5 separate regions of the Homo sapiens genome follow, and all the other regions are linked to region 5. The links come from fine-mapping of genetic effects on gene expression. A gene starts in region 5. Each other region holds a variant in brackets. All regions are shown on one strand. Distances are between the middles of the regions. Region 1 overlaps LOC105376876 (a long non-coding RNA gene). Region 2 has its middle 5.9 kb from the start of MIR4425. Region 3 has its middle 30 kb from the start of MIR6731. Region 4 has its middle 8.3 kb from the start of MIR4425. Region 5 holds the start of RUNX3 (RUNX family transcription factor 3).

What was found. PIP is the estimated chance that this variant, and not a neighbour inherited with it, causes the effect. A credible set is the group of variants that fine-mapping cannot tell apart.
Region 1: its variant is the best candidate, but not a certain one, in a credible set for the expression of RUNX3 in whole blood (TOPMed, PIP 0.79).
Region 2: its variant is the best candidate, but not a certain one, in a credible set for the expression of RUNX3 in whole blood (INTERVAL, PIP 0.51).
Region 3: its variant is the best candidate, but not a certain one, in a credible set for the expression of RUNX3 in whole blood (TOPMed, PIP 0.79).
Region 4: its variant is the best candidate, but not a certain one, in a credible set for the expression of RUNX3 in whole blood (TOPMed, PIP 0.53).

Annotation. Positions count from the first base shown.
Region 1 is chr1:24,863,919-24,869,833 of GRCh38, forward strand. It overlaps LOC105376876 (a long non-coding RNA gene), which reads left to right. Exons shown (of 3, transcript XR_947082.3): 3 at 1,313-1,820. Among named protein-coding and RNA genes, the nearest start is that of MIR6731, 53 kb to the right of the region's middle. RefSeq lists an enhancer at 2,377-3,576 and a silencer at 5,271-5,471. The variant G/T (reference allele first, on the strand shown) is at 2,428.
Region 2 is chr1:25,014,626-25,020,540 of GRCh38, forward strand. No RefSeq gene overlaps it. Among named protein-coding and RNA genes, the nearest start is that of MIR4425, 5.9 kb to the right of the region's middle. RefSeq lists enhancers at 4,398-4,507, 4,598-4,667, 4,708-4,867, 4,825-5,721. The variant T/C (reference allele first, on the strand shown) is at 2,428.
Region 3 is chr1:24,886,167-24,892,081 of GRCh38, forward strand. No RefSeq gene overlaps it. Among named protein-coding and RNA genes, the nearest start is that of MIR6731, 30 kb to the right of the region's middle. The variant G/A (reference allele first, on the strand shown) is at 3,332.
Region 4 is chr1:25,028,829-25,034,743 of GRCh38, forward strand. No RefSeq gene overlaps it. Among named protein-coding and RNA genes, the nearest start is that of MIR4425, 8.3 kb to the left of the region's middle. RefSeq lists enhancers at 1-233, 186-275, 736-805, 3,094-3,303, 3,844-3,893 and 2 more and a silencer at 2,288-2,337. The variant G/A (reference allele first, on the strand shown) is at 2,892.
Region 5 is chr1:24,928,115-24,934,029 of GRCh38, forward strand. It overlaps RUNX3 (RUNX family transcription factor 3), which reads right to left and starts at 2,162. Exons shown (of 5, transcript NM_004350.3): 1 at 1,473-2,162. The coding sequence starts at 1,754. RUNX3-AS1 (RUNX3 antisense RNA 1) reads left to right here and starts at 2,343. Exons shown (of 4, transcript NR_183341.1): 1 at 2,343-3,912. RefSeq lists enhancers at 368-1,102, 751-930, 1,103-1,836, 3,276-3,865 and silencers at 1,401-1,840, 2,041-2,510, 4,181-4,400.

The DNA of each region.
Region 1 (5,915 bases), 64 kb before region 5:
ATTCTCTTGCCTCAGCTTCCTGAGTAGCTGGGATTAGAGGCACACACCACCCCGCCCAGCTAATTGTTTTGTATTTTTAGTAGAGATGGGGTTTTGCCATGTTGGTCAAGCTGGTCTCGAAATCCTGACCTCAGGTTATCCTCCTGCCTTGGCCTCCCAAAGTGCTGAGATTACAGGCGTGAGCCACCGCACCCGGCCCAGCTGGCGTTTTTAACCTCGTAGGTTATGTGTTCTCTTCCCCACCTCTGTTCTCCTCAGAACAGCTCCGTGTGTGTGCATATGTTTGAGCGTGCGTGTGCATGCATGTGTGTATACATGTGTGCATGTGTGTGTATGCGTGTCTGCATGTGTGTGCGTGTGTGCATGTGCGTGCATGTGTGTGTATGTGTGAGCAAGCACACATGAGTTTTCATCCATGTTGATCCGATTTCCCTGTTTCCCCTGACTCCCACCCCTAGACTTTCTGGAGTCGTCCTCGTTAGCAGCCCTCATGATTCATTGTGGGAGGGGGATTTAAAGCTGCTCATAAAACACCACTTCACTTTCTGTTTTCTTTTCTCCCCTTTCTTTCTCGGCCCCTTGGCTCTATAGCCTGGCTTTTTCCCCTGTGCTTGGCCAGATATGTAAAATAAACACATCCACTGTGCAGGAGGAAATGACCTTTGGGTTTTGGGGGCTCTCTTAATGAGGCCTCAGCACTGCTGACAGTTCCACGCTTCCCTTTTTTACCCTTTGACGTTCTGAGACTTTGCCCAGGAGCTGGCGTCTCAGATTTCAGGTGTCCTGGGCCGCCCAGTAAAGCCGTTCAGCAAGGCCAGGGCACAGCCCACACCCAGTTTCTCACCTGGCTTTACCCTGAGTGTACCTCTGTCTAGGGATCCCACTGGTTTTGTTTTTTTTATTTCTTTTTAGTAACAAAAGAAATCATGTTTGCTTGTCTCTAAAACTATAAGCAGCATAGAAATGAAGATCCCAGCCAGGGCGCAGTGGCTCATGCCTGTAATCCCAGCACTTTGGAGGCTGAGACAGGCAGATCACCTGAGGTCAAGAGTTGGAGACCAGCCTGGCCATCATGGCAAAACCCTGTCTCTACTAAAAATACAAAAATTAGGAGGGCATGGTGGCTCATGCCTGTAATCCCAGCTACTTGGGAAGCAGAGTAGGAGAATCACTTGAACCTGGGAGGTGGAGGTTGCAATGAGCCGAGATCGTGCCACTGCACTCCAGCCTGGGCGACAGAGCAATCTCCATCTCAAGAAAAAAAAAAAAGAAAAGAAAAGAAATGAAGATTCTTTCTCCCCTTTCCTCCCAGTGCTCTCCCCACAGGAACGAGACCTGCGTGGTGTGGGGAGCAGCTGAAGACTTCTCATCTGCCTTTGTGAATGCCAATTGTACACAGCCACTACTGGAATCTTACTCATCGCAGCAGGAGGCCTGGCTTCCGGCACAGGTGGAATGAATGAAGGAAGGAACGGATGAATGAAAACAATGAAGCTGTACAGAGCAGTCTGTCTCCGAGTGGGCAGTGGATCCTGGAAAACACATCTTCAGCCATCCAGAGTGGGAAGATCTGGATTTGGGATGTAGCCGCTTCCTCCCTGTGTGACCTTTGGCAGATGTCATTTACTTTTTGGAACTTCAGTTTTTCCATCCGCAAAAAGGGGATGCTGCCTGCCCAGTTCATGTCACAGACCTGTGAAGGTCAAAACAGAAGGCAGGAGGGAGCATATTCCATAAAAGGTACAGCAGCCGGGCAGAGTGGCCCATGCCTGGAATCCCAGCCAAGGCAGGAGGATTGCTGGAGACCAGAAGTTTGAGACAAGTATGGGCAAAATAGCAATACCTCATCTCTAAAAAAAATTATTTAAAAAATCAGCTGGGGCTGGGTGCGGTGGCTCACCTGTAATCCCAGTACTTTGGGAGGCCAAGGCAGGCGGATCACTTGAGGCCAGGAGTTCAAGCCCAGCCTAGCCAACATGATGAAACCCCATCTCTCCTAAAAATAGAAAAATTAGCCAGGTGTAGTGGTGCACACCTGTAGTACCACTGCACTCCAGCCTGGGTGACAAAGCGAGACTCTGTCTCAACAAACAAACAAACAAACAAACAAAAAACCAGCGGAGCATGGTGGCACACACTGTAGTCCCAGATACTTGGGTGGCTGAGTGGGGAGGATGGCTTGAGCCCAGGAGGTCCAGGCTGCAGTGAACCACGATCGCACCACTGCACTCCGGCCTGGGCCACAGAGTGAGACTCTGTCTCTACAAAAGAAAATAAGAAAGGAAGGAAGGAAGGAAAGAAAAAAAAAATAAATAAAAATGAAAGATAAAGCATAGGGACGTCTCTGAGACAAAGAGCTGAGTGGAAGAATCAAGTTAGGACTCAGCAGCGCAGGATGGCGAGGCTTATAATTTTAATCCCCTCCTC[G/T]ATTTCTTTCGATGAGGCAAAAAACAGTCTTGGAAATTACTCACCAAACCAGCAGTGGGTGCCAGGAGCTCATTCACTTTGTGTGTCATTATAATTTTTTGTAACTAGAATGGATGGAGCAACCACTTTGGTAGTGAAAATATTTTAATATCCGCATGTGCATAAAGTGACACGAATAACAGTTCCCGTTTACTGGGCTCTGATGCTGTAGCAGGCTGTGGGGATGGCTACTGTGCTCATTTTACAGACAAGGAAACTGAAACCCAGGCAGGCGAAGTGGCTTGCCCAGGCTCACACAGCCAGAACGGGATGAAGCAGGTTCTGACCTCCAAGCAAGACTGACTCCAGTGGGGAATTATGGGTTCCCAAATGACACTGATCACAGCAACAACGGGCAGGACAGGACAGGTGACTCAGAGCAGACTCCTCATGCAAGGGGAGATGTTGCCCAGTGCCGAGGGCACCGGGGCAGGGTTCATGCCTTCCCCTGGGAGAGCAAGAGGTTCAGAGTCAGAAAGACTGGGGCTTGTGGTCCCAGCTCTGCCACTTTCTGGTTGTGTAACTTCTGCCAAATCCCTTCACCCCTCCGAGCCTCAATGTGCTCATATGCAAAAGGGGCGAGTAACCACCTACCTTGCAGGCTTGTGTGGACTGAGTGTGTTACGGCCATGAAAACACCATGTGCTCTATAAGGTGCGCTTTATTCATTCCTGAAGTGAGCATTTATCATGCACCCACGTTCATGCCAAGCCCTTCTCTGGGATCTGGGGAGACAGCAGCAAACACAGCAGATGAGGTCCTGGTCCCTGGAGTTACTTTCAAGTGGTTGGAGCCAGATAATCAACCGAGAAAGCCTGACACAGTTCAGACGGCGTTGAGTGCCGTGGAGAACCCACGCCGGACAGCGTGACGGAGCGGCCTCGGGGCTGGGCTACTGAGCAAGGGAGGGGCCTCTCTGACTTTGTGATGTCTGCACAGAGGCTGAGCGGTGTGGTGCAGGTCAGTGATGGAAAGCTGTTTATGGGAAGTGTCAAGGGATAGCCCCAAGGAAGGGAGGAGCTACAGCGGGTGAGGAACAGAAGGCTAGGGCAGGGAGAATGGGCAAGGGGCCCACCGGGCAGTGCCTGTGCACTAGAGGTGGTCTCTAGAGGTGGGAATGTCTTTGTGGACACGTGTCCTTTGCTTAGGACAGCGGAGAGAGGCTTCCAGGTCTGGGTGGGTGAGAAAGAGGGAGGAGCTGTCAGGCAGAACCATGGAGGTAGGTGGTAGGAGGTAGGAGGTAGGTGGGAGGGTGAGGCACCTGCTCTGAGCCCCTTCTCCCTGGGCAGGAATGGGGCATGTGGGCAGAGCAGAGGGAAGCAGCGGTGCAGGAATGGCCCTGACCTGCACAGATGTGGGAGGAGGTCCGCACGCCCAGAGAGGGGCTGAGATCATACCACCAGGGACCTGGTGTTGGTTCCACAAGAGGCTCAGGGACACACTTCCAGAATTTTGAGAGCACCCCTAGCAGAGGCAGGGACTTGGACTGGTTGACCTGGCTTTCCCACACCCTCAAAACCTCAAAATGTCCAATGTCCATCCACTGATCATGATGGGTCTTTCTAGAATGTCATTTTCTCCCCAGTGCAGTTGGTGAGAGGCATTCTCACCTCCTCCCTGGAGAGTGGGGTTCCTCCTTACCATTGCCTGGTGGTTGAGCTCTAGTCCTTCTGTCTGGCTGGCCGTGTAGCCTTGGGCAAGCCGCTCCATCTCTCTGTGCCTCTGTTGCCTGGGCTGTAAACAGAAGTGAGCTAAAGGCAGGCAGACCGAGGTCTGTGACCACGTAATAACTCATACTCAGTTCCAGAAATATTCACCCACAGAAGTGTCTGGGACAAGCCTGGAAGGCTGATCACACCAGCCCTCCGGGTGCTGCTCGTGGCTGAGAGAACAGAAGGGAGCCCTGTCCACCATGGGAAGCTGCTGTTTCCATCACCAGCCTGGGCTGTGGTGCAGAAAGAAGGAAGGGGAGTCTGGGTGGGGCGAGGGAGGCAGCAAAGGGCCTGGACCTTCGTGGGAGCACGGACACACAGGACAGCCATTGTCGAGCTTGGACTGACCCTACTTGGTGACGTTAAGTTCTCAAGCTCCAAGAAACAGCATCTGAGTTCTTGAGCTCAATCTTCCCACCAAAGAAAATCATACACAAGTCCCGGCGCAGGGGCTTCACAGCTCAAAGCATGGTCTGTGTCCACATTTCCTGTGGTGGGTCAGGCCCCACTGCAGTCCTGAGCCAGCTCTGCATTCCCACCAGAGCCCCAGGAGATCAGATGCGGGGTGAACTCTGAGAAGCGCTGCTCTAGGGCACAGGTAGGCTCATTGCAGCCTTGTCCCCAGCGGGAAAACGCGGTGGACCTGCAGCAGTCAGAGGCAAGGCACACTGCAAGCTCCAGGAACAGGCAGGACCCGAGAAACGTAGGTGGGTGGAAGCAGGAAGAAGGAGAACCCAGCGCAAAACTGATGATGCATATTAAAAACATGCACATGGCGGCTGGGCGTGGTGGCTCACGCCTGTAATCCCAGGACTTTGGGAGGCCGAGATGGGTGGATCATGAGGTCAGGATTTCGAGACCAGCCTGGCCAAGATGGTGAAACCCCATCTCTACTAAAAATTCAAAAAAATTAGCCGGGCGCGGTGGTGGGCATAGGGAGACTGAGGCAGGAGAATCACTTGAGCCCAGGAGGTGGAGGTTGCAGTGAGCTGAGATTGCACCATTGTACTCCAGCCTGGGAGACAGAGCAAGACTCAGTCTCAAACAAAACAAAACAAAACAAAACAAAAAAACATGCACATGGCAAAATGACATAAAGGAGAGTGTTGGGATGGTGGGAGCCGTATTGTGTCAATGTGAACTCTCCTGAACGTGGTTATTGTTCCTGGTTATGTAAGAGCAGCTCCTTGTTCTCAGGAGGCCCACGGGGAATGGTCCTGACATGTGTAGGTACTTCTATATGGCTCAGCAAACAAAATTTATGCAGATACTCAGAGAGAACCCCTGGAGCAAAATGTTGACAATCTGTGAGCCTAGGTAAAGGGGATATGGGAGGTTTGTTGTTGTTGTTTTTTGTTTTTTGAGACGGAGTCTCGATCTGTCACTGAGGCTGGAGTGCAGTGGTACAATCTCTGCTCGCTGCAACCTCTGCCTCTCAGGTTCAAGTAATTCTCGTGCCTCAACCTCCTGAGCATCTGGGACTACAGGTGCACGCCACTACACCTGGCTAATTTTTGTATTTTTAGTAGAGACGGGGTTTTGCTGTGTTGGCTAGGTTGGTCTTAAACTCCTGACCTCAAGTGATCCTCCTGCTTCGGCCTCCCAAAGTGCTGGGATTACAGGTGTGAGCCACTGTGCCTGGCTAATTTTTATATTTTTAGTAGAGATGGGGTTTTGCCATGTTGGCCAGAACTCCTGGCCTCAAGTGATCTGCCTGCCTCGGCCTCCCAAAATGCT
Region 2 (5,915 bases), 87 kb after region 5:
GAAACTGAGGCACAGAGCAGTGACATGGCCTGCCCAGGCACACGCAGCAGCAAGTGGCGCACAGACACCAACCTCAGTCAGTCTGACACCTGCAGCCACACGCGTAACCCCCATACTCTGGCGAAACTTCAGCGCCAGAGGGGCCCTGACACAGAGTCTGGCCCAGGGACCCTCAACCCCAGCTGTTCAGTTGAATCACTGGGAAGAGTTTAAATGGTGTCCATCCCAGAATCAATTAAGTATATGTTTCAAAAGATCCCCAAGCTGGGCGTCGTGGCTCACACCTGTAATCCCAGCCCTTTGGGAGGCCGAGGCAGGCAGATCACTTGAGGCCAGGAATTCAAGACCGGCCTGGCCAACGTGGTGAAACTATGTCTCTATTAAAAATACAAAAATTAGCTGGGGATGGTCTCCTGTGCCTGTAATCCAGTCAGGAGGCTGAGTCAGGAGAATTGCTTGAACCCAGGAGGCGGAGGTTGCAGTGAGCCGAGATCACACCACTGCACTCCAGCCTGGGTGACAGAGCGAGACTCCATCTCAAAAATAAAACAAAAATAAAACTAATAAAATAAAATAAAAACAAAAATAAAAATAAAAGATCCCCTGTGTAGCTGGGACTGAGAATCACTGATGGGACCAAGCCTCTCATTTTACAGGTGGGATGACAAAGGCCCAGAGAAGGCAAGTGATGTGTTCTAGTCCGTGATACTAGACCTGGCTCTTGCAGTCCCTCTGACACTTTTCAAGGTCGGTGCTGAATGAATTAATTGCATCTAGTCGGTCAACCTGCTGCCCACCTTCAGCCCTGGCCCCTGGTCGCCCCAGGCCACAGCTCCTGAGCCCCCAGCCTGATTTCTTCTCCACGTTAACTGGTGCCTCTGCATTCAGAGACACAGGGAAAATCCACCAGGGGGAATGGTGGCAGGTGTGGGATGGCTTTGCCTCTGTCTCTGTGGGTTTTTCTTCCTCTTACCTCTCATGAGATGGCCTAGGAGGTGAAGAGAACAGTGTTCCTGGTGGAATGAGGACAGGCTGCACTTCTGCAAAGACTCTGGGGTGAGGGGGCTGGCGCGGAGGCTGAGACATGCTAGGGCCCCCTAGCCTGGGCTGTGTGAATGAGGCCAGTGGCACAGCACGGGTGCACTTGGCTTGGTGCTCAGTGGCCAGGCTCAGACCTCACCACTTCCATTTGCGTGTTAGGTGAGTGCATCCCTAAGCGCCCACCCTGATGGTCACCTGACTCTGGGAGGATTAGATGAGAAGAAGCCTGAGGGGGCTTCCCACAGGCCCGTGTAAATGCTGGCTATAATCACCAGGCACTGTCCCTGGGGCAGCCGTGTGCTTGCAAGTCCCCTGTTCTGGACTGTTCCCACAGCACTGTACGACTGTGGCCAAGTCCCTTCCTCTCCCTAAGCCTCAATTTTCTTCTCTGTAAAATCAGGGGTGATGATTTCTAGGGTCCCTTCCTGCCCAGTTGTTTGCGGTTATTTTTTGTCTGTTTTTAGAGAGTGCGATGTTGCAAGGTTGGGGCAGACAGAGTCAACAAGGACAGCACCGGCTGGGCACAGTGGCTCACGCCCGTAATCCCAGCACTTTGGGAGGCCCAGGCGGGTGGATCACTTGAGGTCAGGAGTTCGAGACCGCCCTGGCCAACATGGTGAAACTCTGTCTCTACTAAAAATACAAAAATTAGCCACGCGTGGTGGCGCACACCTGTAATTCTAGCTACTGGGGAGGCTGAGAAGGGAGAATTGCTTGAACCCAGGAGGCGGAGGTTGCAGTGAACCAAGACCATGCCACTGCACTCCAGCCTGGGCAACAGAGTAAGACTCCATCTCAAAAAAAAAAAAAAAAAAAAAAAGGAAGAGCAGCGCCCGGTTATCTGACCCTGGTGCTTAGGCACAGTCCATCAAGCAGTGCCAGCTGTGTTCCCATGCCAGACAGGCATGGAAGGGGTCTCCAGCTGGCTTCTCATTTCCGCACTGTGGTGTCTCCTGACCTGGGGGCCCTGGGGCCTGAAAGCCACTTCTGTCGGATCATCTCCGGCTCCCATTGGTTAAACCCCTACTGTGTGCCAGGGCCCAGGGTGTGCTGTGACTTGCTCAGCACTCTCTCAGGGTGGCCCCTGAGTCTCTGCATTTTGCCACACACTGCCAGACTTGGCTAAAATAATACTAAGGCTACCTTTTATCAGTGCTTCTGGGAATCTATGGTGGTTGGTTAAAAGCATGAACTCAAGAACCAACCTGTCCAGGTTAAGTCCTGGCTCTGGACAGTCCATCGTCAGCATCCCCGCCCCACCCGTGCAGAGCGGCCTTTCTCCTGTCCTCCAGATGGTTCCCTTCCCATCCTGTGGGGTGAGATGGGGCTCTGAGCACGGGTGGAACCCAGCACTGGGGGGCAGATGGTTCTTCTGGCCCCTTTAGG[T/C]GTCAAGTCAGGAGGGGGATGACTTCCAGTGGCTTCTCCCCAGAGGAAAGAGATGGGGTTGTCCTGGGGGCACAGGGATGAAGGGGGAGGGCTGCACCAGGCAGAGGTGGGTGTGAAGAGGACTTCATGGGGTCGAAGTGCCCCAGCTCCTGCCTCTGTAGATCCAGAGCCCCCGTGCCCAGCTCTTCCCTGGCCCATCACAGCACGCACAACCCCCATCAGCGATTCTGTCCTTTGGGTTTCGAGTCCATTTTTATCTTCTACAGCCAATTCACTGCATTAAACTCCTCAGCCTTGACCCTGGTCACAGACCAAGCCCTCATTGCTGACATATAGCCCCGGCCACACACTGAGCCCTGACCCTGGTCTCAGATGGACCCATAACCACAGCTGGAGTTCCGACCCCAAGCAGCCACTACAGAGATGAAGATGCAGGGCTGCACAGTCCCTGAGGCCAGCCTGACGGGTCAGAGTGTCATCCCGCATTGGTTCCAGGATCCACACCACAGAGCCCCCACTGGCCATCTGGAGATGTGGCACCTCCCCACTGTGTGGCCCTGGATACATCCCTCTGCTTGACCTCAGCTCCCGCCTCTAAATGAATGGATGACATCGAGAGACTTCCTGACTCAGAGCTGGTGACCTAGAAACTGTGAGGTACTCCTGGGGGTGTGGGCTTCAGGTTGTTCCCAGCTCTCACAGCCCTGGGCTAAATCCTCTCCACTCTCTTCCCAGCCTCAACCTCACAGTCCAGTGGTTAGGAACAGCCCCTGGGGCCGCATCCTAGCCAAGGGGCCTCGTAAGTTTCCTAGCCTCTTGGAGCCTTGTAAGTTTCCTAGCCTCTAGGAGCCTCAGTCTGCTGTCTGTAGGGTGGGGACTGTGGGTGTTGGGAACTCAGCGCAGGCCACGCGTGGGATGCTGTCAGAGCCAAGCCCAGCATAAGCAAAGGGTCAGGAAGTCAGAGCCAAGCACACTGGCCTTCCACAGGGCTCCTGGGCTTCGCTCAGCTCCAGTGGAGATTGAAAATACTGTAATTCCTTTTTCTTCCCTTTCTCATTGGGGACACTGAGGCCTAGAGAGGTCAAGCCCCGTGCCAACAGAGTGGGGGAAAGCAGAGCCTCATGTCCCTCTTCTCACCCCACCCCTAGCCTCCTTTGAGCTCCATGAGCCACCAGAACTCATCATAGCCCCAGGCAGGTCGCCACCCTTCCCTGAGCCTCTGTTTCAGCTTCTGTAAGAGGAGGGAGCAGGACCAGTGGGATATCTCCTGAGGACACCTCACTGCTACTGAAGAGGACAGGAGCATGCTGGGGTAGGAGGTCAGGTCTGCATGGCAGGCCTTCAGAAACCTCTGGAATGTGGGTTTGAAAGTTTGGGGGCTGCTCTTGCTACAAAGGTTCCCTGTTCTCCCCTCCTTTCTTTCCATGACATTTCACCAACTGTTTCTTCCCTTAATCCAAACCATCGTTTTTCCAGGGTGAAATTTAAATCAAAGCCACATGGCTCCCCCAACACACGTGTCCTTGCCAAATGGAAGCGTGTTCTGGGGAAACAGTAATGACCCTGCCGAAGGGGATTCTGACCTCTCCATGGGGCCCGCCAGGCAAGTGCTATGTGGCATTGAGAAGACCTGGGGGCTTCAAGTTGGCCCAACTGGGGTAGGCTTGGAGGTTTCCAGGCCCAAACATGGCTCCGCCAGGAGCAGAGGGTGAGCCTGAGTTCCTCCACAAGGAGGCCAGGAGGCCTTTTCCAGAGCCAGGAGCCTTCATCCTATGAGCCATGGATATGGGAGGTGCCTGAACCCCTGGGGTCCATCTGGGGAAGGGGTTTACACGGTCCTCCCAGTGAGGCTCAGTCATTGATATGACTTGAAGCATGGTGGTGGTGTGGCTGTATGAGAAAGAGACCTGGATTTGGAGTCTTGTTTGTGTCTGATTCTCACTCACTTGCTGTGTGACCTCGAACAAGTTCCTTAACTTCTCTGAGCTTCAGTTTCCTCATTGGTAAAATGGGGCTTCAGCTAGAAGCTCTCTCAGTGGTAACCATGATGCAGGCGAAGGGCCAGGGCCCAGGAGCTGGCGCACAGTGGAGCTCACAAAAGCAGCTGGGGGAACTGTGCAGAAGTGAAGCGGGGGCCTCAGAAAGGAAGGAGGGAGACGCCAGGCCTGGCATTGCAAGAGGGGCTGAAAGCAGTGGTGGGAGAGAGGGCAGACAGGGAAATCTGGGCACTGTGTGCAGCCCCCAGATATGAGAGGAAGCCCCTGAGTGGAGAGTCATGAGACTTTGGAAGGGGCAGAAGGCTTTACTGAGGGGAGGGGCATCCAGGGAGGAGGGGCCTGGAAGTCCCCAGGGGCCACTCTGCAGGGGCTTCCCTGGGCCTGGTCTCTGTTTTACATAGTCTGGCACTCCCAGGCGGGCTCACAACTTGGAGTCCTGGTTGGGGAGAGGGAGTCAGGAGAGCAGGAGGCAACCTCCCATACCCGCCATACACCAATAATCAGACACCCTCACTCCGGACCAAGCCTGGACACCTGTGGGGTGAGCACACTCATAGCTATAGGCCCACAGACTGAGAAGTACATGCAAATGGCCACATGCCAGACCCATATGCAAAACACAGACCCAGACAGGCCATGCACAGACCCACATTTCCACACCGGGGCCAGACCCGCATGCAGGAGTGTGCAGGCATGTGGATGCGTGCACACACACTCCCGCACATACATGCCTGCACACACACACACCTGCACACATACACATGCCTGCACACACACACACCCCTGCACACATGCATACATGCCCACACACACACACCTACATGCCTGTGCACACACACACCTGCACACACGCATACATGCCTGGACACACACGTACATGCCCGGACACACACATGCCTGCACACACACCTGCGCGCACACACACCTGCACACACACATACATGCCTGCACACGCACACATACATGCCTGCACACACACATTCACATACATGCCCACACACACATGCACACACATACCTACCTGCATACACACACCTACACACACATACATGCCTGCACACACACATTCACATACATGCCTACACACATGCATACACACATACATTCTTGCATGCACACATCTGCACACACATACATACCTGCACACACATATTCACATACATGCCTACACACACGTGCACACACATACATGCCTGCACATACACATGCACATGCATGCCTACACACATGGGTGCACACAAACGTGAGCACACACATGTGCTGAACAAGGCCCCAGGAAGCCTCCAGCACAGGCCAAGAGAACGGCTCCCTCTACACTCGTTTATTCACTCCACAAACCAACTGAGCACCTACCAATGTCAGGCACAACCCCTGCCCCTGGAACTCACACTCTAGTGAGAAAAATGTCAATCACGCCTATCGAAATAATGACTATTCCTCACACATTCACGAGATTTTGCTCATTTAACCCTCAAAGCAGCCCTCTGGAGT
Region 3 (5,915 bases), 42 kb before region 5:
TTATTTTGATGAAATCCAAGTTACCCATCTATGTATATACTGAGCTGACCCTGAGACATGGCAAAATGTGTGAAGATGGTACTTGAGTGAGTGAAGTTTGGGCAATGTTGTTTCTAGTGAATTCTTTCTCCTTGGTGGTTTCCTCTGGCCTGTGGATATACTTTATTCAGCAAAAGATGCCAGGGCTGAGGGGATATGGCCTCTGGTCTGCCACCCAGAGGGTAAACTTGGCAAGACCCCAGCCAGGCTCCCCCTCCTCTGCTGTTCCTAAACATGCATTCATGGACAAGGGGTCTCTGGAGCAAAGGAGAGTGACTCCTTCCCTCTCCCGCAACCTTGCCCACTTACCTTGTAGCCAGCCACTCCCTCCTCTTTCTGTAACTGGGCATTGGTCCAGCTGCCAGGCCCAGGACCTCTCCCATTTAGCCAGATGTAGTTCCAAAAACAACTGCAGCAGTATTTGGATACATTTTCCAGCCTGAACTAGTGGTGTTCCTGTCCATAGCTGGGATCCAGGTTTGTTGCCTCTGGGTGGGGCTACAGCTCCTTACCTCCTGGAAGGTTGTGGAAGTGTGGTTTCCTTTTTCTCCTTTCTCTTGTGGAACATAAGCATCTTTCCAAGTCCTTCTGGCCAGATGATGATGGTGTGAGCCTGTCCGTCTCCCATCAGTGCTGAGGGGCCTCAGATGCTGCCTCTTACCTATAACCCAGATGCTCCCAGGTGTGTTTATTTCCTAGAGCTGCTGTGACACAGAGCCACAAACTGGGAGGCTCAGAACAACAGGCATTGTTCCTTGCACAGTTCTGGAGGCTGGAAGTCCAAAATCAAGGTGTTGGCAGGGCTGGTTCCTACGGGAGGCTCTGAGGAAGAATCTGTTCCAGGCGCTCTCCTGGCTCCTGGTGGTTGCTGGCAATCCTTGGAGCCCCTTGACTTGTAGATGCATCACTCCAGTCTCTGCCTTCATCTTCACATGGCGTTCTCCCTTTCCCTCTGTCTCTGTGTCTTCTTCTCCTCATCTTATTGTCATATTGGATTAAGGGCCTACCCTGCATCAGTATGGCCTCGTCTTAGCTAATTTCATCTGCAGTTACCCTATTTCCAAAGGTCACATTCTCAGGTTCTAAGAAGTACATGAATTTTGAGCAGGATAATGTATGGCCCAGTGCACCAGGCAATGCCAAGGGCATCACTAGGTAGGAGGCTGGAGATGACTCCATTTCTGTGAGCTCCTCCTTGGCTCCTCTGTGTCTTTGCTTCTAACAGCCTGTGCCTGCCACTCTCTCTCGAGGGCTCCCCTTGAGCTATTAGAGGGGCTTTGTGTGCACAAAATTCAGACACACACACACACACACGCACATGCACATGCACACACACATGCACACATGCACACACACACACATATACACACACACACAGAGCCAGAGTGCCTGGATATTCGTGACCCCTGGAGCTGTCTTACCATGGTGATGACTGACAGGTGGGCAGGGCACGGTGGCTCACACCTGTAATTCCAGCACTTTGGGAGGCCAAGGCAGGTGGACCACCTGAGGTTAGGAGTTCAAGACCAGCCTAACCAACATGGTGAAACCTTGTCTCTACTAAAAATAGAAAAAAATTAGTTGGGCATGGTGGCGCATGACTGTAACCCAGCTACTTGGGAGGCTGAGGCAGGAGAATCACTTCAACCTGGGAGGCGGAGGTTGCAATGAACCGAGATCACGCCATTGCACTCAAGCTTGGGCAACAAGAGTGAAACTCCATCTCAAAAAAAAAAAAAAAAAAAAAAAAAAGGAATGACTGACAGGTGCACATGCAGAAGCATAGAAGCCCAGATCCCTGGCCTGCAGTTGGGCACAAACTCTGAGGTGTAACTTATACTCCGGAGCCCCCCACAGGTCAGTTTCAACTGGCCTCACCCTCCATGTCTAGCTCCCCCTACTCTGACACTGGCTTGTCCTGGGAGTACTTCCTTAAGAAATCACTTTCATGTGAATTCTCTTCTCAAAGTCTGCTTCTGGGCAGCCCAAGCTGAAACAGATCCCCATACCTGGAGCCTGCTGCAGCCAGGACTGATATGCAGGAACCCAGCCCAGGGAGCCACAAAGGGATCCACCTCCCCGGATCCAGGGGTTCATGATTCATGGGCGATGGTGCTCTGTAAATGGGAAGGCCCTCTGTGAACACTGGGGTGTTTGCCACGCATTGTGCTCAATTGTCCCCTCTATGGGCGGGCCTTCCCCAACCACACCATCCAAGATATTCTAATCTTGTCCTTTCAGGCTGCTGATCAACTAGCTCAGGAGTCACTGTGGACATGTCACACTTCTTCCTCCATGAGATGGAGATGACCAAATCTATTCATAGTTCTGTGTGCCAACCTATGAACCAGACCTGAGCCCCTTACCCCTCTGACAGTCGGCTTCAGGAAATCGCCATGAGGCTACAGGTGTGTGTTGAGGGGTGGGTAGAGACACAACATAAGTGGGTGGCGTGGGGTCTGGCACACTTCTTCATGTAACCCACTTGTACCTGCTGGACCTGCCAGTCTCAATCCCAAATATCACTGTAGCATTTCTCTTTTTTTTATATTATGACAAATACTTATTTATTTATTTATTTATTTATTTATTTATTTATTTTTTAATTTTATTTTAAGTTCCAGGGTACATGTGCAGAATGTGCAGGTTTGTTACGTAGGTAAATGTGTGCCATGGTGGCTTGCTGCACCTATCAACCCATCATCTAAGCATTAAGCCCAGCATGCATTAGCTATTTATCCTGATGCTCTCCCTCCCCACGCACCTCCTGAAAGGCCCCAGTGTGTGTTGTTCCCCCACCGTGTCCTTGTGTTCTCATTGTTCAGCTCCCACTTATGAGTGAAAACACGTGGTGTTTGGTTTTCTGTTCCTGCATTAGTTTGCTGAGAATAATGGCTCCCAGTTCCATCCATGTCCCTGCAAAGGACATAATATCGTTCCTTTTTATGGTTGTATAGTATTCCATGGTGTATGTGTACCACATTTTCTTTATCCAGTCTATCATTGATGGGTATTTGGATTGATTTCATGTCTTTGCTATTGTGAATAGTGCATTGTAGCATTTCCATTGTACAGTGGGTTACTGCTGTGCCTGCCTCACATTAGGATTTGGTGGATCTGGTCATAGCCAGCTCACAGAGGGAAACTCAGCCAGCATAGTTGCTTGATGTCTCATGGTCAGGCTCTGAGTCTCTGTAGGGTTCAGTAGCATGCCAGCAATTGTTTTTCAAAAGGAGAGTAGTTCTCCACTGCAGAAAATTTTAGAGGTCTGTACTGGGACTCTTCTACTGGG[G/A]TTTGTTAAAGGCTCCACCCAAGTTCTTTATCTAGCACCATAAATCTTCTCAGTCTCATGGCTAGCAGAGCAGCTCACACTGCAGCTTGGACCTATGCAGCGTTCTCTTTTGCTTTGTCTCAGAACTGAAAGCTTTCTGAATTGCCTAATAAATAGGTCAGAGTAGCATTCCCAAGTGTGGTATATGCTGCTTTGAAATTCAAGGAGAACAAAGAAGGTGGGCATAAAACAACAGAAGGACAGTTTCTCGCAGCTGGGGAGATCAGAAGTCTGAAACCAAGATGTTGGCAGGGCTGACACGGGCAATACACGAGGCCCGTGTATTGCCTCTTCCTGCTTCTCTTGGCTCCAGACATTCCTTGGCTTGTGGCTGCATCACTCCAATCTGCGTCTGTGGTCACATGGCCTCCTCCTCTTCCCTATGTGCCTCTGTTCTGTATGTCTCTTATAAGGACATTTGCCATTACATTTAGGACCTGCCTGCATCATCCAAGATTACCTCCCCATCTTGAGATCCTTAACTGAATTACATCTGCAAAGATCTGTTTTCCAAATAAGGTAATATCCCCATAGGTTCTGGAAATTAGGACATGGACATATCTTCGTGGTGGGGTGGGGGGGTGCTTTTTCATCCTACTGTATGGTAGAGGTGCAAATGCAGCAACTTGTCTTTTTTTCTGAGAGGGGATGGCTTGGCATGCCTCAGATCACAGGTTCCTTAAGATCTTCATCAATACGGGGGACCCTGAATTTTCAGAGGCTTTATCTTCCACTCTCTGGTGTGCATACATTTTTGTTTTGTTTTGTTTTGAGATGGAGTCTCACTCTGTCACCCAGGCTGGAGTGCAGTGGCACGATCTTGGCTCACTGAAACCTCCAACTCCTGGGTTCAAACCATTCTCCTGCCTCAGCCTCCCAAGTAGCTGGGATGACAGGTGCCCGCCACCATGCATGGCTAATTTTTGTATTTTTAGTAGAGACAGGGTTTCACCATGTTGACCAGGCTGGCCTCGAACGCCTCACCTCAGGTGATCCACCCACCTCAGCCTCCCAAAGTGCTGGGATTACAAGCGTAAGCCACTGTGCCCAGCCATATATTTTATTAAAGCATCTTGGGTTCTTGCCATTTTTCCTCCTTAGGTTTAGAGCAGCAGGAGCATGGGAGCAACTGTCCAGTGAAGGGGGTCTGTTGAGAGGCTCACCCACAGCATCCACTGCAGTGTCCTTGATCATCTTGACACCCCACGCTACCACCCAGGTCCGTCATGTTAACATTGTGTGAGCATTGGCTGCAAACTGCTCACATCTGCCCCCTTCTCTGGAGAATTGCTCTCTGCCAAACAGTAGACATCTCACCGTGGAGGTTATGCTCCTTTGGGGGTGTGGCAAGTCTTGCCAACTGACTTACCTGAGGACACAAAAAGTCTGCTATCTGGAGGGGACAAGTCAGTGCTGTAATTAATGCTCCAAAGGCCCTCATGAGACCAGAATGAGGCTGGCCTCCAGCCCAGGGATGTCATAGATTAACTTTCTTTCTCTGCTGTGTCCTGCTTCCCTCTTTCCACTTCCCCTGAAAGTCCTCCCCACAAAAATCCCCACCTCTTGATCTGCTTCTAGGGAAACCTGACCTAAGAGATTCCTTGGGTGTATTAGTCTATTCTCACGCTGCTAATAAAGGCATACTCGAGACTGGGTAATTTATAAAGGAAAGAGGTTTAATTGACTCACAGTTCCCATGGCAGGGGAGGCCTCACAATCATGGTAGAAGAGCAAGGAATGTCTTACATGGTGGCAGGCAAGAGAGGATGAGAGCTAAGTTAAAGGGGAAACTCCTTATAAAATCTCGTGAGATTTATTCAATATCACAAGAACAGTATGAGGGAAACCACCTCCATGATTCAATTAGCTCCCACTGGGTCCCTCCCACAACGTATGGGAATTATGGGAGCTACAATTCAAGATGAGATTTGGGTGAGGATACAGCCAAAACATATCATTCCCTCCCTAGCCCCTCCCAAATCTTATGTCATCACATTTCAAAATCAATCATGCCATTCCAACAGTCCCTCAAAGTCTTAACTCATTTCAGCATGAACTCAAAAGTTCACAGTCCAAAGTCTCATCTGAAACAAGGTAAATCCCTTCTGCCTATGCACCTGTAAAATCAAAAGCAAGTTAGTTACTTCCTGGATAAAATGGGGGTACAGGGATTGGGTAAATACAGCTGTTCCAAATGGGAGAAATTGGCCAAAACAAAGGGACTACAGGCCCCATGCAAGTCCAAAATCCAGTGGGGCAGTCAAATATTAAAGTTCCAAAATGATCTCCTTTGACTCCATGTCTCACATCCAGGTCACACTGATGCAAGAGGTGGGTTCCCATGGTCTTGGGCAGCTCTGCCCCTGTGGCTTCATGGGGTAGAGCCTCCCTCCTGGCTAATTTCACAGGCTGGCGTTGAGTATCTATGGCTTTTCCAGATGCACAGTGCAACCTGTTGGTGGGTCTACCATTCTGAGGTCTGGAGGATGATGGCCCTTTCTCACAGCTCCACTAGGCAGCACCCCAGTGGGGACTCTATGTGGGG
Region 4 (5,915 bases), 100 kb after region 5:
GAGTCCGCACCCCACCTCCGTCCTCTGCAGGTCCCCTTCTCTCCCTGACTCTCCTCCGCCACCCTCATCAGCCCCAGGGCTCGGGGAGCTGGGACAGAACCCAAAGAGAGATGAGCTCGTGGTCTCAGCTGTGAAGTTGGCTTTGGTTTTTCGGTTGCAAATCACACCCATATTAGGAACCGGCGGGAAGGAAGATGACTGCGCCAGAGCCTGTGTTTTCTGGAAACACCGCAGGGCGGTGAGAGGTTTTCCAGGCCCTGCCTCAAGCCAAGAGGCAAGATTTGAATCACTGAACTGTCATGAGGTGTCTCCCAAGTCCTGGGTCCAGCATTGCTCCCTGAGAGCACCAGGAAGTAAAATGCCCTCAACACAGAGGTCCCCTGAGACCCACAGAGAGCCCACGAAACACTCACCGAGCGCCGACTTGGCGCCAAACCCTTCCCATTCACTTGGCCATTTAATTTTCAAAACCTGTTGTGTGACAAGTGGTGACTCTCACTCCACAGAAAAGGAAGCCACTCCACTCTTGAAAAGGATGCCAAGCGGCACCCCCGCGGCCACACAGCCAGCAGCCCAGATCTACCTTCTCCAAAGCTTGGCTCTGAATTGCGAGGCTGCAAAGCCCCATTCTCCTGGTGCCCATCTTGCCCAGCCCAGCAGCGGGAGCCCTTCTCAGGGAAGAACCTGTTGCGAGGGGAGAGGCGGAGCTGTCGCTGATGGACGGAGCACAGCTCCCCACCCGCAGTGGGTACTCAGGAAATGTCTGTTGACAAACAATCCTGTCTTCATAAAAACAAAACTGGCAATGCAAGTGCATAAAAGAAAAATACTGGAATGAAATGCACCCAAATGTCACTATTCTAATGAAGATGATAAGGAATGTGATTTTCTTGCTCTTTCCTGTGCTTATCTGTATTTTCTATATTTGTTGCAGAGAAGTTAAAAGAAAAGAAAAACCGTAAAAGGAAAGCCAAATGCCTCCTCCAGAGCTGTCTGACAGGGTTTTGGGGAGAGATGGTCTGGGGAGGCTGCAGTCAGCAGTACAGCCCCCGGGGGCTGTCAACAAGCAAGAGAGGTCAGAGACCAGTGGCCCTGGCTGGCCTCCCTGGTTGACCCTCTTAGAATCAGAAGATACCACTTTGAGCATCTTGGGGTGCAGGTGATGAGGGGAAACAGTAACTTTGGGAGCAAGCAGTCAAGGATGAGGATTTGGGGGTCAAGAGACCTGGGAAGCCCAGCTCACCATCTAGCCTAGAGTGTGCCCTGCGGCAAGTCATTGTTCTACTGAGCCTCAGTTTCCCCATCTGCAAAGTGGGTTTCTGGAAGGCTATCATGAGGACTAAATGAGGTCATGCATATGGAACAATCAGCCAGTCCTTAGCATGCAGTAAGTGCTCAAATAAGGGTAGCTCTTGGTCATTCTTCTTCTTCTTCTTTTATTTTTTTTTTTTTCCTGAGACAGAGTCTTGCTCTGTCACCCAGGCTGGAGTGCAATGGAATGATCTCAGCTCACTGCAGCCTCCGCCTCCTGGGTTCAAGTGATTCTCCTGCCTCAGCTTCCTGAGTAGCTGAGATTACAGGTGCATGCCACCACACCTGGCTAACTTTTTTGTATTTTTACTAGAGAGAGGGTTTTGCCATGTTGGCCAGGCTGATCTTGAACTCCTGGCCTCAAGTGATCCACCCGCCTCAGCCTCCCAAAGTGCTGGGATTACAGGCATGAGCCACTGCGTCTGGCTGTTTTTCTTCTCTTCCAGTCCCCATGGTCATTAGGTAAAGCCTGGCCTTGGCACTCAGGCTGGAAGTTGGCTAGAGGGGATTTGGAACTAACCCCCTTGGTGTAAGGTGAAGAGTCTGAAATTTAGGGAGGGGAGGAGGTAAGAACAGAGTCAGACTCCTCCCTCCGCCACACCTTGCTGCTTCCAGCCCTCACTGTTCCAGAGCAGAAAGTGTGGGGTTTAGATGCTCCCGGGGACCTGAGATCCATGTCAGTCCTCCCAGTGTGTGGTTCTAACACCTTCCTCAGTGTGGGCCTCTCCCTGTCCTCCCACCCCACCCAGCCCCACCCTGGCCAGTCTCAGGACCTGTGGAAACCAGGAGGACCAACCAAGTTCTCCTTCTCACTCTCTGTCTGAGTCAACCCCACCACACCATGGAGGTGACTCAGAGGAGACAAAGCCCCAAACCACACCCCATTCACGGTTTGGAGGGGAGCCTCACTCCAGGGCTGGGTTTCCCAGGGTCTGTTCTGCCCTGCCAGACACTCTCAGGCTCCCTAGGAAGAGGAGGATGGAGACTGGAGAGATGGAGGGATGGAAGGATGGAGGCTGGAGAGATGGAGACTGGAGGGATGGAGGATGAAGGGATGGAGGCTGGAGGGATGGAGGGATGGAGGCTGGAGGAATGGAGGCTGGAGAGATGGAAGGATGGAGGCTGGAGGGATGGAGACTAGAGGGATGGAGGCTGAAAAGATGGAGGGATGGGAGGGATGGACGCTGTAAGGATAGGGGCTGGAGGGTGGAGGCTGGAGGGATAGAAGGATGGCGGGATGGGAGGAATGGAGGCTGGAGGGATGAAAGGATGGAGGCTGGAAGGATAGAGGCTGGAGAGATGGAAAGATGGAGGCTGGAGCAATACAAGGATGGAGGCTGGAGGGATGGAGGCTGGAGGGATAAAGGAGGAAAACAAAGAGCGGGAGGGGTCTGGGCACTAGGCTAGGGCCTCAGCTGCTGGGCCTGTACCATGGCAGGGAATCCATGAATCCTGGAGGCATTTTTGGCTGGTTCCAAAGTCAGACAAAGTGTGAACCTCTCTCTGCTACAACCTTGGCCAGAAAGTCTGGTGCAGAGACGATGAGACACTGGGGACCCCCACTTGTTCACATTTGTTCC[G/A]TTGCTCACTTGTTCAAAAAACACGCGTGAAGCCCCTGCTTGGAGCCAGGCACTGGGCTGGGTTCAGGGTTTCCAGATGAATCAGGCCTGCTCCCCGGGGGACTCCCAGTCGTTCAGAAGAGAGACAGACATTGAAACAAATAATTAAAGACACGAATGAAAGCCTCTGAGATAAAAATACACAAGATCGGTGAACACAGAGAGAGTCACTGAGACAAGCTTAGGGTTGACCCTAAGCTTGAACCAGAGGGAAAACTCAGACCTCCACCGAGTAGGATGGGCAGTGGGAGGCTGGGGTGCAATGATCCTGAAGGATGCTGAGGGACCCACCACTGCTCCCGTGACCTCCACCTGACGTTCCTCAGGGAAGTGACACCCCCTCCAAAATATGCAACGAGAGAGGCCCTGGGGAGACGCAGGCTTGGGTTTCAGATGTGGGCGATTCTCACACGGGCTGCAGATTCTAGGCCTTGGTCTGCAGCCCGCTCACTCCACGCCGCTGAGACTCAGTTTTCTCATCTGCCAAGTGAGAGTTCTGGATTTGGAGATGATTATTACAGCTAATATTTGCTGAACATTTACTGTGTGCCAGGCATCGCGCCAGACACTTTGCATCGGTACCTCGTTCAGCCTTCACATCCGCCCAGTGAGGTAAGTGCTATTAATAGCAGAAGCCTCTTATCCAATGAGAGCAAAACCAGTGGTTGGTTAATAGAAAAAAAAATTAATGCAGGAAATCATATGATACATAAAGTAGGCATTTTATTGAACGTAACACGTGCGCGTGTACTTTTATGAGATGATCTTCTGATGCAGGGCCAAGGCTGTCTTTGAGACTGAGGCCCCCAGCTGGTGTCCTACCTTGTTTTTCTTGCATAAAACCAACCTGTGCAGCAGCGTTTATGGCTCTCATTAGGAGTCCTTTAAAGCGGAGTGGGACCTTAGAGATGCTTGTGAAGCCATCTGAGCACAGACTCCCTAGACTCCCTCTGGATTTTTAATAATCACCCCCTCCCTCCAGTTTTAGTCTACACCTAATTCAATGAAAGTTTGTGACGGATTTTAACTATTGTCTTCCCCAGTCTTTTATGGCTGTCTTGCCCACACCTCATTTGGCAGCACTTTTTTTTTTTCTTCCGTTGACAACTCGCCTATAACTGGGCCTTTGCAAAGTCCTTTCTTGGTTTTCTGTGACACGACTCTCTTTCCCATTCACATTCTGGTCTCCCTGGTTCGGCCACTACAGCCAGCAGCTGCAGGTCTGGGAAGAAGCCTCACTGAGTCAGAGGAGCCGCCTAGGTGGGAATAGCAGCGGCCGGCCTGCCTGGAACATTCAGGAAGCTGTGGCATCTACTAGCCTCTCTTTCAAAGGACAGGGAGAGTGTTTGTTAATCCAGAGTGGGTTGAAGGGAGGTCTTGTAAGGCACTTTCTATGGTTTGATTCCCATTCTACAGGTGAGGAAACTGAGGTACATGAAGTCACTTCCCCAAGGCCACCCTAGGCTCGTCTAGCTGGGATCTGAACCCAGGCCTGCCTGGCTCCACGTTCTTCATCCTCACACCCTGCTACCTCCTTGTTGCACCAGAGGGGGTCCCTGTGCAACCCAGGTCTGGCTTTCCTGCTGGAAGGACTTAAAGGATCTCTCTTGCATGTGGAATTTGAGGTGCATTTAAACATTGTCCACACTAAGCCTGGTACGGAAGATGGCCACCGATCTTGGGGCAAGGTCTTCTCCCTTGGTCCTGTGTCTCCACGCCCAGGCCTGGTATGCAGCAGGTGCTCATGAGTGTCAGGAGCTGGACAGGAACAGTCAGGATGCCTTTTGTGTTTCTGCCAGTGTCGCGAGCACCTGCTCTGGGGCATGCACCAGGCTGGGTTCCAGGATCTAACAGGAAGGAGAAGCTGGTCCCATCACTGGCCTCAGAGGTCAGTGTCTAGCAGGGTCATTCCATGTCCCCTCGTCCAAGCCTCCTCTGGTCAGACTTCCTCTGAGGGGACAGGGGGTTGTTAAATATGCAAAGGATGTGGATTTTGGAGTCAGACACATCTGAGCTCCAATTACAGCTCTGCCACTTATTGGCTGTGCGTGTAACCTCAGACCGATGGCCACCTCTCAGCCTCGGTACAAACGACAATGCCTCATTCTAGGCCCTTGGTGGGCAGACCCCCAGCAGGGCTAGGAGTCCCTTGAGCCCCAGGGAGGAGGAAGCCCGTAGGCAGGAGGGGTTCGGCTGTGGACAGGGGACCTGGCAGTCAGCTCCCAGAAGCTTCCGACCGTTGGTGGCTGTGGAGAGCGAAGCGGTATGCAGGGGAAATGAAAAGAGGCCAGACGTCGTCCAGGCCGCAGCACGCAAGGGCACCTCACTCCGCTCCTTCGTTCCCTCCCAGGCTCAGAAAGGGGAAGGCAGCCCAGACCAGGAAGTGGCCAGCTTCTGATGGCCACCGCATGGGGACCGCACCAGCCCCAGCAGGAAGTGGCTGGCCCCTTCCCACCCCCTGCCGAGCCAGGCCCTCCTGCACTCACACTTGGGAACCAGCCAGCCTGAAAGTCCCTGTTCTCAGGTTCTGGGACCAGCACTGCATTCTTAGAAGCCTGGGTCCGGCCGGGGCCCCTGATGTTGTGGCTGGGGGTCCACAGACCTGGGTTCTCAGCCCCGCTTTGCCACTTCCTCGCCCTGAAGCCTCAGCCAAGTTGCTTCCCCGTCTGGACCTGTTCCTCGTCTGTTAAATGGGGTGATCACCCACCACCCGCCGCCTCAGAGGGACAGTGAAAATGGGGAGTCCTGAAAGGCCAGAGCTGGAAAGTCCCCGAAGAGTCCTTACAGAGGAGGCAGGTGGGAAAGGAGGGAGATTGTCCCCGGTCCCACAGCCAGTGGGTAGCAGGGCCGTGAGGTTCTGGAAAGAGCACTGCATTGGGAGGTAGCACTTGGCCCAAGCCTCACTCAGCTCCTTCCTAGCTATGGGACCTTGGCCAAGTCAACCAAGGCCCCTGGGCCTTTTCCTACAAGACAGCAAACCTCGTC
Region 5 (5,915 bases):
CCAAATGAGAAAGAGTAACAACAATAATAACAACAGGGCTGCTACCCCCACTCAATTTATGCAAGAGCTGTTTAGGGCATGAAATTTGGCCCTGAAATGTGGACCAGGCCCAGTTTATTGGCCTCTGCAGAGCCTAAATTCGTTATGCAGAGAAAATGCAGAATGCAAAACTCACTGGTGTTTTGAAAAAGGCCACCAGAAAACCCCTTTAAAGTGAGAGTGGGGCTTTTGATAATGGAAGGATGCACCTGCCGGGAATTGCAGGATGGGGGTGGCGATGTCCCCCTAAACACCATCTCCCCCAAATCCCCCACCCCCAGGAGCACGGAGAGGCGGATGCCTTTTGAAAAAGAATCAGACTTTAAACAGAGTCACAACTATTTAAACGTGGCCGCCGCGTGCAGGGACTGGGGATCCATATGGTAAAAATTTCAAGGAGAAAATGTTTGGGATCTGATTAAGAAGACCAGATTTCCTGTCAACATCCTGTCTTCTTTTAATTTCAAAGACTCCTTTTAAGCTCCAAGTGACAGTAAAACCTCCGATCTGACGATTAAAGTCACACGGGCCTCCCGCCCCTCCCGGCGAGATTTCCCCCACTGGTATTTTAAGATGTCACCCGGGAGACCTCAAAGAGCCACTCTTCCTTTTTTTCCCATTTAGAGTCGTCTTAATGGGAGCAGGGACGGCCTCAGCTTCCAGCCACCTCGGGCAGCACCACCCCCAGCCGCCGGCCCTTCCTGCCCTGCCCTTTTCTCACGGCAGCTGTGAGAGGTTTAGGGGAAAACCGAGGCGTTTTCGTTTCATCTCGCTGCCCCCTTAAAAAAATGAAAATGAAACAGTCGCCTACTCCCTGGCATAAAGAAAAAGGTCCTCTAAATGGCTGGGGGCTGCCAGGGTTAGGGGTCCCCCAATCTCAACTCGCCATTCGGGACGCATAATATCCCCGAGCAAACGTCTGGAGAGCAGTGCCCCGATCCCGGCCTAGCGCCGTCCGGTAAAATTTCGGAAGCCCGAGGGTGTGAGCAGGAAGCTTTTGCGAAGCGGCGCGGGAGGAGGGGTGCTGGAGGCGGAGGGTAGGCCCTTTCACCGTTCGCACCCCACCCGCGGTGTCCTTGCCCCTGTCCCGGGATCCTCTTCTCCGTTACCCGCAGGGCTGTATCTGAGCGATCCGGGTTAGGGGGGCGCAAAACCCCATCCGCCCATTTCCGCACCAACGTCTCTACGCAAGGCGCCCCAAAACCCAGGTGGAGCGGGGCAACCCCGTTAAAAGTCATTCCTGCAGGGCGCATCCAAAACGGAACGCCGAGGTCCCGGAGCCGAGCGCGCAGCCAGACTGAACCGGGTGCCCGGGTGTCGCCGCGGCGTCTCGGGCACCTCCCATCCCCACTGCTCCCGAGGCTCTGGCTCCCGCAGCTCAGACGCCCGGAGCCCCAGGGCCGGCGCCCTCCCGCCCCGGGTCCCGCACTCACCTTGAAGGCGACGGGCAGCGTCTTGTTGCAGCGCCAGTGCGAGGGCAGCACGGAGCAGAGGAAGTTGGGGCTGTCGGTGCGCACGAGCTCGCCTGCGTGGTCCGCCAGCACGTCCACCATCGAGCGCACCTCGGGCCGGGCGCGCCCTCCGGGCCCCACGGCCGCCTGCGCGCTCAGCGCGCCGCTGTTCTCGCCCATCTTGCCGCCGCCGCCGCCGCAGGGGAAGGCCGGGGAGGGAGGTGTGAAGCGGCGGCTGGTGCTTGGGTCTACGGGAATACGCATAACAGCGGCCGTCAGGGCGCCGGGCAGGCGGAGACGGCGCGGCTTCCCCCGGGGGCGGCCGGCGCGGGCGCCTCCTCGGCCGCCGCTGCCGCGAGAAGCGGGAAAGCAGAAGCGGCGGGGCCCGGGCCTCAGGGCGCAGGGGGCGGCGCCCGGCCACTACTCGCCAGGGCCCGCCCGCTGCGAGGCCTCGCTGGCCCGACGGCCGCCCGCAGCCTGCCCGGCTAGTCCCGCATCCTCGGCGCGCGGCCCCGCGTGCGGCCGCCCCTCGTGGCTGTCCCGGCTGCCTGGGCCGCGGCGGGGCCCGCGCGGGGCTGTGCCGCTGCCGCCGCCTCCCGCCCCGAAGCTCGCCCGCGGCCGCCCCGACTCCGCGGCCGCAGCCCCAGAACAAATCCTCCAGAATCAAGTGGCGGGGCCGCGGCCGCCCGCGCGGGGTTAGTACCCCCGGGGCCCGCGGGGCGGGGCTGGCGGAGCGACGCGTCGCACAGCCAATCGGCGGAGCCCCCATCGCGGGCACCTCGGTGGCGTTCGCGGGGAGGAACGGGGCCTGCCGGAGGCCGCCCAACGGGGAGGGGCGGAAGGCGCCACCCCGCGGAGGAGGCCCCAGTGCCACAGCCCAGGGCCCCCGAGAGCTCTGGGAGCCCGGGGCAAATGCTAGAAATTTGCTTAGAACGTCCGGGTCCCACGGAAGGCGCCCTTGCCGCCCTCTCTCGGGTCGTAGCTCCCTGACGCTGGGGCGCAACCCCTTCGCTCCTCCTCCCCGCTGGCCGCGGCCGGGCTTCCCCAGCTCTTGCTGCTTCGGGCCTGTGACTTCTGCAACCCCGGGCTGGGGGCCGCGGGGTCTCAGGGCCGGTGACGCCGCACTGGGAGCCGCCCCAAAGAGGTTACTCACCTCCCTCGTCCCGCACATTATTCTGACCCAAGAGCCTCCACCCCACACGGGATTTTGCGCGTCGTCCACGCCCGGCCGGCGGCCTTTGCTGCTCCCAGCCCTGCGCGGCTTTGGTCCCAGCCTCGGTGGCCCCTGTGCCAAACCGGGGACAGGCGGAAGGGAGTCTCCTAGGGACCCTAAGTAGCCTGGGGCCAACAACCCCTTTCCTCTCTGCTCTCCCCTCAAAACAAGTTTCAGGATCTTGCAGGCCTCGCGGCGTCGTTCTTCGTTGTGGCGGCCTGTGGCTCTTTGAAAAACACGACGAGGCCTGCAAAATGCGTTTTTCTTTTTTTCCTTTACGCATGTAACCACGGTCCTGCATCGTGAAACGGTACGCGCGTCGGTGGCAAAAGAAAAACAGCAGTGGCTGCAAAGCTAAGGGCCCTCGCTTTCAGAGGAGAGAATTTTCTTTCTCCATGCGGGTGGAAAGTGGCCTCTGCGGGTCCAACCCCACTTCTTCTTGGGCCCGTGCGCTCCGGCTGCGCCGCAGGGACCGCGGACAGCTTCGCCAAGGCACTGCCTGCCCGCCCGGCTCCGGGTCCCCGCTCCCACTCCCAGCCGCGTGGCCCAACCTCTCCTGGGCTTCACTGCAAATCACCCCTTCCTCTCCCGCCTCCTAAGTCTGTCGAGCAGACCTAGGGGCCGGCTACAGTTGGGAGGGCAACGGGAAAGATCAAGCCACAATCATTCCGAATTATCGCCCCAGACACCTCCCTAGACTCTGGGGAACGAACGCGTGCTGAGCCTCCCCGCCGCTTTGGAGACGGGGCTAGATTTTCGTTGCCTCCGGCTCTCGACAGGTGCAAAACAATGAATTCCAAGCCTCGGAAGCAAAGAAGCTTAGGATCCGACGGTGGCCGCAAGATCTCATCATGGATCTGACCCCTGCTCAGCGCGCGCCATTTCGTCGTTGCCAAACGAAATCAAGCCCCGCGTGCGCTCCAGGGGCGAAGGACTCTGGACTCACCCCGACCACCGGGAGAGCTGGCCCCTACCCACCTCGGGACCTCACAGCACGCCCTCAGGCCGTGTCGAAAGGAAGGACGGCAAAGGTCCCTTACTGAACCTTTTAAGAGAGCCTGCGCCTGGCAGTTGTCGATTGCGGACCCAGGCCCGCGCGCCCTCGGACGCGCTGGCACGAGCAGCAGAACTAGAGGAAAGCGAGTGATCCAGCCTGGGCGCTCCCACCTCCGGGAACGTCTCCGAGAAGGCGCAGCGCGTCGTGGCCAGGTAGGGCCCTGGCCGGGGGCGGGCAACACGTGCTGCCCTCGAGCAGGTTGCGGGACCATGACCCGCTGTTTCAGGTGGTGGTAAATTCCATTTGTCGAATGGTTTCGGTTTGCACCGTGCCCTTTGCTTGTTCCTCCGCCTGATTTCTCCCTCTCCGCTTACGATGGGTTCACAGACAAGTTTCCAGAGAATGAGGGACTCTTGTGGGCCCTGGCACCTGGCGCAGGGCCCGGCACGGCTCCGGCTCTCCGTAGGGCGCTGGCTCCCCGTGGGCACCAGATCCAAGGGACCAGGGCGGCGGGGGGAGGGGGGGCGGGTGCAGGCCCTTGGGTCCCCAGACCAAGGTCGCGGGGCCGCCTGGCAGGCACAGTGGCGGGAGCCGCCGCTAGTTGGCGCCCGCGCCCTGCCAGCCGCGGAGGTGCGGGCCCGGCCGGGCTACAGATGCGCGCCAGCTGCGGCCCCGGGTGCAGGCGCGGCGACCGCCCCCGAGGAGCTGCCCTTTCCTTGCCATCCATGCGGCCAGGTCTCAGACAAACCGATGGCTTTGTGTCAAACCAAGGCCGCCTTCCTCACCTCTGATAAGATGGACGCCTTCTGTCTTCGCGTTTTCAGGCACCCGGGGAAGACCCACAGAACAGGCTAGCTTGTTCCCAATTTCCACCTGCTTCCTCCCCATCCCGGACCGACAAAAATTGTCGTCTGTTTGATGGGAGGGAGAACTCCGACTCCCCCACCTGGGGCATGCAGACACCCTCGCCCTTCCCCAGTTGGCATGGACCGTCGTCTTTTCTCCCTCTTCCATCAGATCGATGGACAAACAGGCCAGTTTCTCCCCAGTGGCCCCCACCTAAGAGCACCCTAAGTTGTCCACAGCAGGGCTAGGAAGCAGAAGGTCAGGACACTCCCCTACCCTACCTTGACTTAGAGCTGGGTAAACCCAGAACCCATCCCCGGGCAAATAGAGCCAGCTCCTTTGCCCCAGGAAGGGGATTCGTCTCCCTCTGGCATTTAGGAGTGCTCTCTAAGTGCGTTCTTGGCAGTGAGGGTGCCGCCTTCCCAGGGCAGGTGTGATTCATGTGGACTCTGTGGCGCCTGGGCAGGGATCCCCAGGTATACCAGACAAGGGGCAGGTGTGCCCTGGGAAACCGCCTAAGAGGTCCATGGGCTATGGAAGGAGCTGGGGTCCACAGTCCCTCTGCCTGAGCGTGTCTTTTTCCCTCACCCACAGCGCTCTAGGGAAAGTTGCCTAAACCTCTCTGAGCCTCATTTCTTTCATTTGTAAAGTGGGGCACTCATAGTGGCCCTTCATAGAATTGTGTGTAAAGTGCTTAGCACAGGCCTGGCACATGGAGGGTGCTCCAGCCTCCGGGAGCCATCACTGTCATGAAAAAATAAGACCTCTCAATCCTTGCTGGGGGCCTTTGACCCACCCCTCCTCTCTCTGGGCCTCACACTTCCATCTGTGAAATGTCCAGTTCTCATATTCAAAGCTTACTAGGACTCCAAGCCAGTCCATGCTGTCCTGATCCCTCAATTCGCCCACAGGCTGCCTGGGGGAGGTAAGGACTGGCTGTGACCTACCTCCACGTGGAGTCAGCTCATAGCGGGGTTTCCAGCAACCATCACAGGGCGGCCAGAGCTGGGTCTCGATGATTGCCTGTCTGACCATTCCTCTCAGAACCTCACTTTCGCCCCCAGCCGGCCGCCCTCCTGTGGGCAGACCCTTTCCTGAGTAGCAACTGGGCCTCAGCGGACACTGCCAGGGACCCCGTTTCCTTCCCAGGAGGCCTCTGTTCCCCATATCCCGAATCACACAGGAGCCTAGTCCAGCGAAGAGAGCAGAGGACTCTCTTCTAGAACTGAAAATTTCTCCCAGCCTGGCCCTAAATCCCCTGTCCAGAGGGACCCGTGGTGAAACCTATCTCCTGCCCAGTGCCCTAGAACTCAAAGGGGACATTCATGCCCCTCACTGAGCCTCAATTTCCTCTTCTGTCAATGGAGGT